2 separate regions of the Homo sapiens genome follow, and region 1 is linked to region 2. A link means that fine-mapping ties the variant in region 2 to the expression of a gene that starts in the linked region. Tissue or cell type: whole blood. Region 2 holds a variant in brackets; the other region holds the start of a gene. All regions are shown on one strand. Distances are between the middles of the regions.

The links. PIP is the estimated chance that this variant, and not a neighbour inherited with it, causes the effect.
Region 1: it holds the start of SLC47A1, and the variant in region 2 is fine-mapped to the expression of SLC47A1 in whole blood (TOPMed, PIP 0.99).

What each region holds. Positions count from the first base shown.
Region 1 is chr17:19,531,571-19,535,954 of GRCh38, forward strand. SLC47A1 (solute carrier family 47 member 1) reads left to right here and starts at 2,284. Exons shown (of 17, transcript NM_018242.3): 1 at 2,284-2,504. The coding sequence starts at 2,370.
Region 2 is chr17:19,558,294-19,562,677 of GRCh38, forward strand. SLC47A1 (solute carrier family 47 member 1) reads left to right here. Exons shown (of 17, transcript NM_018242.3): 11 at 1,895-2,003; 12 at 2,125-2,200. LOC105371578 (a long non-coding RNA gene) reads right to left here. Exons shown (of 3, transcript XR_934310.4): 3 at 2,002-2,232. Among named protein-coding and RNA genes, the nearest start is that of SNORA59B, 2.9 kb to the left of the region's middle. The variant C/T (reference allele first, on the strand shown) is at 2,637.

The sequences.
Region 1 (4,384 bases), 27 kb before region 2:
ATCATTCTATTAAATTTTAAAATAATGGAATACACAGTAGTGGACTAAAACCTAATATATTAATTGAAAATTAATTTTCCTGTGCTACTTTTTGGAAGGAAGTCACTGTGTACAATCCACCTTTAAGGAGTGAGGAGTTATGCTCTGTATCACGAGGACCTTTTGTTTTTTGTTGCTATTGTGAAAGATTTCTTTTAGTATTTTCATATATGTTATTACCAATATAAAGGACTGATATGACTTGTTGAAGAACTTCTATGTAGCAACTTTATTAAACCCCTTTATCAATTCTATTAGCTTTTGTTCATATTTTATTTCTTTGGGTTGTGTGGATTTTTTTTAAGAGATGGGGTCTCACTGTGTTGCCCAGGCTGGTCTCAAAACTCCTGGGTTCCAGTGATCCTCCCACCTCGGCCTTCCAAAGTGTTGGGATTATAGGCATGAGCCACTGTGCCTGGCCCGGTCTGTCAATTTCTACTGTGAGTAATCCCTTTGCCTTTTCTTTCCTAACATTATACATTACATTTCCATTTCCTGTCTTATTACATCAGTCAGGACTTCCAGAAAATTATCAAAAAACAGCAGTGATCAGAGATCTAGTGAATATCCTCGGGTATTTGTCTGTTGACACTCTCAGTTCTTTTGGGAAACTGCGCTACTCCATATGTACAGTCCTTGTGGGACGAGACCAGTCACAGGGCACCTAACCCTAACCCTGTAGGTTCAAAGCTGGGTGCATGGTCCAGGGCCAGCCAAACATCAGACCCTATTTTCCCACCCAGGGCGATTGTTCCAGAGGTGGGCAAGAAACCTAAGCAGGGCCAACCAGATTTTCTCCCAGTTTTTTGTTTGTTAGTTTGGAACCAGAAGAGAGGAGGGGAGGGCCTTACTTTCTGGTTTAACAGACGGGAAAGATAGGAACGAGGGTATCAGAGGCCACCACTGTCACTTGCACAGGAAGAGAAAGGCTGCCGGCAGAGGAGGAAGAGAAACTACGGAAAGAATCCCAAGGGGCGAGGAGAAGGGAGGAGAGGGACAGAGATGGGAAGAGGGACAACAAGAATGATCTGGTTTTGTTTTTTTTTTTTTTTTGAGTGGAGTCTCCCTCTGCCACCAGGCTGGAGTGCAGTGGCGAGATCTCGGCTCACTGCAACCTCTGCCTCCCGGGTTCAAGCAATTCTCCTGCCTCAGCCTCCCTAGTAGCTGGGATTATGGCGCGCGCCACCATGCACAGCTAATTTTCGGTACAGACGGTGTTTCACCATGTTGGCCAGGATGGTCTCGATCTCTTGACCTTGTGATCCGCCCGCCTAGGCCTCCCAAAGTGCTGGGATTACAGGCGTGAGCCACCGCGCCTGGCCTAATGACCTTGTTTTCAAATCCCTGAATCCAAACTTCCTGATTATGTGAGCCAAAAAATTTGTTTTCCATTTTCTCTACTTACATTGGATCATTACAACGGAAGGAATTTTGACTATTAGAGAAATCAATCTTGTCCTGGTAACTGACACTTATTAGGTAACGGCTGGTGCCAGGCTGAGGGCAGGTGGCACTGACTCCGGTCCTCCGCCCAGGCAACCCCAGTCTTCACAGCTGGCGACGAGTGTTCTTTCACGTTTGCAGATGAGGAAGCTGAGGCTCTGGGAGGAAAGCGCGCTGCTCCTGCCCTTCTGGGCCGCAGCCTCTCGTACTCCCACAGCAGGCTTGATGGATAAACTTCCAACACGACCAGCTGGCACAAACTGTGCTACTTGGCAAATGGGAGCATGTTGCTCTATCCTGGTAGATTCTAAGTTCTCTAATGGAACAACTGATGAGAGGAGAGGAGTATGCAACACCCTAACCAGCATCAAAGGGTGTACCCAACTCAATCTGCACAGCAAATGCGCCCAACCCCACACACCCCGCGGGGTGCTAACCGAGTCACGGCTCGAGGCCTCTGGGTCCTTCCACGCCAGGTCATTCAGAACCTGAAACCCCCAGCGGAGGTGGAGAGCCGGGGTGAGTCCTGGCGTCCGAGACGTGGAGGACCCAGCCCCCGGAGCGCGTTCCGTTAGTTTACAGAGCTTTTTCAAACTTTGCCTTCCAAGTGCAGGAGTTCCTTGGTCTTTGCAAGACCCGCAGGCGTCCGCAGTGGTGCAGAGAGAGGTGCAAGGGGCGCGCCCAAGGTCGCAGGCTGCCTGGCTGCGCGCTCAGTCGGGCCCCCGGGCGCCAGGCGCGGGGCGGGCTCTGGGCGGGCGGCCGGGGCGGGGACTGCAGAGCAGGCTGCACTGCGCGGTACCCACTGCCGGCCTGCGCGGTACTCACTGCCGGCCTCCGCGGTACCCACTGCCGGCCTCCGCGCTACCCGGCCGCAGCGCGCGAGTCACATGGAAGCTCCTGAGGAGCCCGCGCCAGTGCGCGGAGGCCCGGAGGCCACCCTTGAGGTCCGTGGGTCGCGCTGCTTGCGGCTGTCCGCCTTCCGAGAAGAGCTGCGGGCGCTCTTGGTCCTGGCTGGCCCCGCGGTGAGTAAGGTGGCCTCAGTGGCAGGCCGGTACCGGCGGGCTGGGGACCTGGTGATTTCTGCCTCCGCGGGTGACTTTGGCGGGCTTTGGGGACCGAGCGAGCTGTCCGCCGGCGGGCTCCGGGGAGCATCGTGCCAGGAGCCGGGCGGGCACCCCAGCTCCTCTGCCTGCGTCCCGGCCGCTTTCCGCTCCGCACCACCCGACTGGGGGCCCCGCGGGGCACTGCGGGAACGGCTGGTACGCGCCCGGGCGCATGTTGGCTCGGAGAGGCCGGCGGCTCCAGCCTCCTGCGCCAGGAGACACCGGAGAGCTGGGACCTTTGCCCCTAACGGGGCTCTACCAGGTCCAGGCTGCATTTGCATCCGGGGGTGCCTTCTCTGGGAGCTGATTCCGGCCAATAAAACGCAAGTTGCCTGAACTTCAAAACACAAGGGAACTTGTTTCTTTGAAAAGTAGCGGTCAAAAGTTCGGGAGCTCTGCGATCTAAATAATCCCGAGGCACGGAGGAGGGGGTGCGTGGTCTGTCGTGGACTCAGAGCTGCGAAATGATTTCTTCAGAATTCAGTCAACCTCTACCGAGGAAACCAGAGGCATCCTGTACCACCCCCTCCCCGCCAGTAATTATGTATGTGAAAGAAAAAAGGGGTTTTAATGTGGTTCTTTGTGGGGTCGAGGTGTTCTTATCTGTGGGATTCTTTTCTTTTTAATCATTAGGTTAGGGCTGTTTCTGCCTTGTCTCCTAAAAATAATGTGGTTTTAAAAACCACAAAAACACAATCCTATCCACGTTCTCCTGCCAGCTTGGGTGGTTTTCAAACCGAGAGGGTAGGACGCGGCACAAGAAGCAACTGGTATGCACTTAAGGCGTGAATAAGCTTTTGACTTTGAGGCCCACATTCTGCACCTGCGCGGGCTGAGGGGGGCCGCTGTGCCTCTGGAGTGGGGGCTCGGTAGTTTGTGGGATATTGTGGCACCCGCTGTGGTGTGCAGGACAGCAAGGGTAATGCCGAGGTCAAAGCCATGGAATAAGATCCATCAGCCATGCTTTCTCACAGACCAGAAAGAACTCATGATTTGGGGCTGGGCGCGGTGGTTCACGCCTGTAATCCCAGCACTTTGGGAGGCTGAGGCAGATGGATCACTTGAGGTCAGGAGTTCGAGACCAGCCTGGCCAATATGGTGAAACTCCGTCTCTACTAAAAATACAAAAATTAGCCAGACGTGGTGGCGGGCGCCTGTAGTGCCAGCTACTCCAGAGGCTGAGGCACGAGAATCGCTTGAACCTGGGAAGTGGAGGTTACAGTGAGCCAGGATGGTGCCACTGCACTCCAGCCTGAACAACAGAGTAAGACTTGGTCTCAAAAAACAAAACAAAACAAAACAAAAACACCTCATGGCTGGGCGTGGTGGCTCACGTCTGTAATCCCAGCACTTTGGGAGGCCAAGGCAGGCGGATCACGAGGTCAAGAGATTGAGACCATCCTGGCCAACCTGGTGAAACCCCGTCTATACTAAAAATACAAAAAATAAAAAATAAAAATTAGCTGGGCATGGTGGCAGGCGCCTGTAATTCCAGCTACTTGGGAGGCTGAGGCAGGAGAACCGCTTGAACCCGGGAGGCGGAGGTTGCAGTGAGCCCAGATCGCGCCATTGCACTCCAGCCTGGGCAAAAAAACACCTCATGATTTGGAATCTCAAGACCTGGGGCTGCGTGCCCTGCTTTGACCTCCGAAAGTAAGTCAGGAAGCAGCTGTGCAGATTGAAACAGCCTCCTAACCTCTTCTGGTCTCTGCATATTCATTTGTAAAATGGAGATAATAATCATGTCTTGGTTCAACACTCCCTCACAGAGCTGCTGTGAGAAGGGGCTTTCTAAGGCT
Region 2 (4,384 bases):
TGGTGCAGCTGATGTTTCCTTATAAATAAATTTAGATTGTCCGTTTTGGGCAGGAAAGCTAGAGAAGTGATGCTGTGTCCTTCTTAGTGCACCATATCAGGAGGCACATGATGTTGATCTGTCTCAGTGTTGGTGATACTACTTTTTACTTGTTGGTGGTTGTTTTTATTTTACTTATTTTTTTTTTTTTAAGACAGTGTCTTGTTCTGGTGACAGCGGCCTGATCTTGGCTTACTACAGTCTTGACCTCCTGGACTCAAGCAATCCTCCCACCTCAGCCTCCTGAGTAGCTGGGACTACAGGCATGCACCACCACTCCCAGCTAATTTTTAAAAAAAATTTGGTCTTGTTATGTTGCCCAGGCTGGTCTCAAACTCCTGGGCTCAAGCAATCATTCCACCTTGGCCTTCCAAAGTGCTGGGATTACAGGCACAGCCATTGCACCCTGCCAGTATTAACTTTGATTGCTTGGTTAAGGTGGTACCTGCCAGGTTTCTCCTGTCAAGTTACTACCTTTCCCTTTGTAATGAATAAATAATTTGTCAGGCGATCTCTGTTTGTCCCTACTTGTGAATTTATAGGCAGAGACTCAGTCTTCTATTACTTTTTTATTTCTCAATCTGTGTATCAGATTTTCTTTAAGCTGGTCCATAGTCATCCTGATCCTAAGGCAATGTTCATGTTTCAACAAGTGATGACTCCTTTTTCCTTATTAATATTAATTTTTCAAGTGGTAACTTTATAAATAATAGTAATGGTAAATCTTTATTGAGCAATTCCTACATGCTTCTTCTAAGCAGTTAGCATGTATGGACTCATTAAGTTCCCACAATAGCCCAATGAGATAGGTTCTATGATTCAACTCCTTTTACAGATAAAACTCTGGAGGTTTTGAGAGGGTAAGTAACTTGCTCAGGGTGATGCAGCTGATAAAGTGGCTGTGCTGGGATTTGAGCCCAAGCAATCTGGCTTCAGAATCCTGATCCCTAACCACAATACAGGGTTGTTTCCCTGCAGTTCCTTTAGTGCCACTCCTGTCTTCTAAGCTGGATCCCTTGATGGTCTTTCAGAACAGACACTATGCCATGTGTGGAGGCGCATGCCTGTGATCCCAGCTACTTGAGAGGCTGAGGTTGCAGGATCGTTTGAGCCCAGGAGGTCGAGGCTGTAGTGAACTATGATTGTGCCACTGCACTCCAGCCTGAGGGACAGAGTGAGACCCTGTCCCTATTTATTTTATTTTATTTATTTATTTTGAGAAGGAGTTTCACTCTGTCGCACAGGCTGGAATGTAGTGGCACTATCGCAGCTCACTGCAACCTCCGCCTCCCAGGTTCAAGCGATTCTCCTGCCTCAGCCTGCTGAGTAGCTGGGATTACAGGCGTGCACCACCACGCCCAGCTAAGTTTTGTATTTTTTAATAGAGATGGGGTTTCACCATGTTGGCCAGGCTGGTCTCAAACTCCTGACCGCAAGTGATCCACCTGCCTCGGCCTCCCAAAGTGCTGGGATTACAGGCATGAGCCACCACGCCTGACCTCTGTCCCTATTTAAAAACAAAAACAAAAAAAAAACAGACAAAACCTGGGCTCCTGGTGAGTCAGTCCATCCCCCGACACCCAGAGGAGGAACATGGTTGTGCAGCACCCTCATGTCGCAGAGGTTGGAAGCTCTGCAGCAAAGCCCAGTTTGTGCTAAGCATCGTAACCTGGGGCTCAGTTTCCACAGTAGCGTGGGAGTTCCCGGCTAGACAAAGGGGATGTTGCAAATCAGTCTTTTCAAAACTTTTAGGACCAAGTTTTCCCACCAGGTGTGAGGCATGAGGCTGCTTCTCTGCACGTGTTCTCGCTCTGCAGTTTCTCACTCATTGTTGCAGGTTTCCTTTTTATTTTAGGTCCCTGCAGGCTTCAGTGTGGCTGCCAGTGTCCGGGTAGGAAACGCTCTGGGTGCTGGAGACATGGAGCAGGCACGGAAGTCCTCTACCGTTTCCCTGCTGATTACAGGTGCTGAGACCCCTTTACCCGAGGCTCTTGGTGCAGTCTCTGCATGCAAAACCCAGGCTCCTCCACTTCCTGTGGATCTTCTTGTTCACTGTGTTGTTTCTTCTGCCGTTTTTACCTTCAGTGCTCTTTGCTGTAGCCTTCAGTGTCCTGCTGTTAAGCTGTAAGGATCACGTGGGGTACATTTTTACTACCGACCGGTGAGTGCTAGGATTTTCTTGAAATGTGAAATCTGTGATAAAGAAATGGTTCATTGAGAAAATTTGTTCTCTAAAATCAGGCTGTTCAGAAACATTGCTGTTTGAAATCATATCAGTAAAAAGAAAACATCTCACTCACACCTGTAATCCCAGCACTTTGGGATCACCTGAGGTCAGGAGTTCAAGGCCAGCCTGACCAACATGGTGAAACCCTATCTCTACTAAAAATACAAAAATTAGCTGGGTGTGGTGGCAGACACCTGTAATCCCAGCTACTTGGGAGGCTGAAGCTGGAGAATCTCTTGAGCCCAGGAGGCAGAGGTTGCAGTGAGCCGAGATTGTGCCACTGCACTCCAGCCTGGGCAACAGAGCAAGACTCCGTCTTAAAAAAAAAAAAAAAAAGAAAGAAAGAAATGGTTCCTCCAAGAGCAAGATG[C/T]CAGCAGAAAAAGTTTTTTAAAACTAGGAATTTTTTTTAAAAAGAGGCCGGGCACAGTGGCTCACGCTGGTAATCCTAGCACTTTGGTATGTCAAGGCTGGCAGATCACCTGAGGTCAGGAGTTCGAGACCAGCCTGGCCAACATGGTGAAACCCCCATCTCCACTAAAAATACAAAAATTAGCTGGTCATGGTGGCACACGCCTGTAATCCCAGCTACTCAGGAGGCTGAGGTGGGAGAATCACTTGAACCCAGGAGGCAGAGGTGCCAGTGAGCCAAGATCGTGCCACTGCACTCCAGCCTGGGTGACAAGAATGAGACTCCATCTCAAAATTTAAAAAAGAAATGGTTAAATTGGATAGATGCTATCATAGAGGCCACCTATGGTTGTTGCAGCAGGGATGTCTGACTCATTTGCAAGATCAGAGGCTCGGCCGGGCGCGGTGGCTCACACCTGTAATCCCAGCACTTTGGGAGGTTGAGGCGGGTGGATCACAAGGTCAGGAGATCAAGACCATCCTGGCTAACACGGTGAAACCCCGTCTCTACTAAAAATAGAAAAAATTAGCTGGGCGTGGTGGCGGGCGCCTGTAGTCCCAGCTACTTGGGAGGCTGAGGTAGGAGAATGGCGTGAACCCGGGAGGTGGAGCTTGCAGTGAGCTGAGATCCCGCCACTGCACTCCAGCCTGGGCGACAGGGCAAGACTCTGTCTCAAAAAAAAAAAAAAAAAAAAGATCAGAGGCTCCACTGATGTTACTTGGGAAGAACATATTAGATGTAGGAACTGATGTATAATCTACAGTGCCAACTTAATGGGCATTGGTAATGATTTTATGCTTCTGCTGGTCATGTATTTTAAAGGTGGAAACCCCTTTTTAGTACGATTAATTACATTTTCAGTTAATTATTTTGTTTCCAGTGATAAGAATCCTCTTGGTTTCTTAGTATCGGCCAAAGTGCCCGGTTTGTAGTAGTTGCATAATATGTTTGTCAAACTGAATTGAAGTTAAAATCTCACCAGTGAGCTGTCTCAAAAGTCATATTCTCAGATTGATTACTGAAGAATTCTTGGATAAGTCCCCTCTGCTCTGCAGAATTTGTTTCCTTCATCAGCGATGCTAGTGTGTACATTCGGACTATATAGAAACTTCGTGGGGGTACTTCTTATTTGGACACCTTTGTCAGCAGTTACAAAATGCAAATGGACTTTGCCTTCCTGGATTCAGAAAGCTGGTGGAGCGGACAGAACTAATTTCATGGTTTATTCTTCACACATTTGACTTTTGACTTCAGATCGTAGGTTTTCATTTTTCAGCTTCAGCTATTTTGTTATGGGGAAATAAGATGTTTAGGCCAGGCACGGTGGCTCACTCCTGTAATCCCAACACTTTGGGAGGCTGAGGCAGATGGATTGCCTGAGTTTAGGAGTTCAAGACCAGCTGGTCGACATGGGGAAACCCTGTCTCTACTAAAAATACAAAAAAAATTAGCTAGGCGTGGTGAGGCACGCCTGCAATCCCAGCTACTCAGGAGGCTGAGGCAGGAGAATCACTTGAACCTGGGAGACGGAGGGTGCAGTGAGCTGAGATTGTGCCACTGCACTCCAGCCTGGGCAACAGAGTGAGACTCTGTCTCAAAAAAAAAAAAAAAGTTTATAACTCCCTCACTCAGAATGAGTGGGGAAGGCGATGGCAAATAGTTGGCTTTTCTCACAAAGGGAATCAGGATGAACTTTATGAGGACCAGGA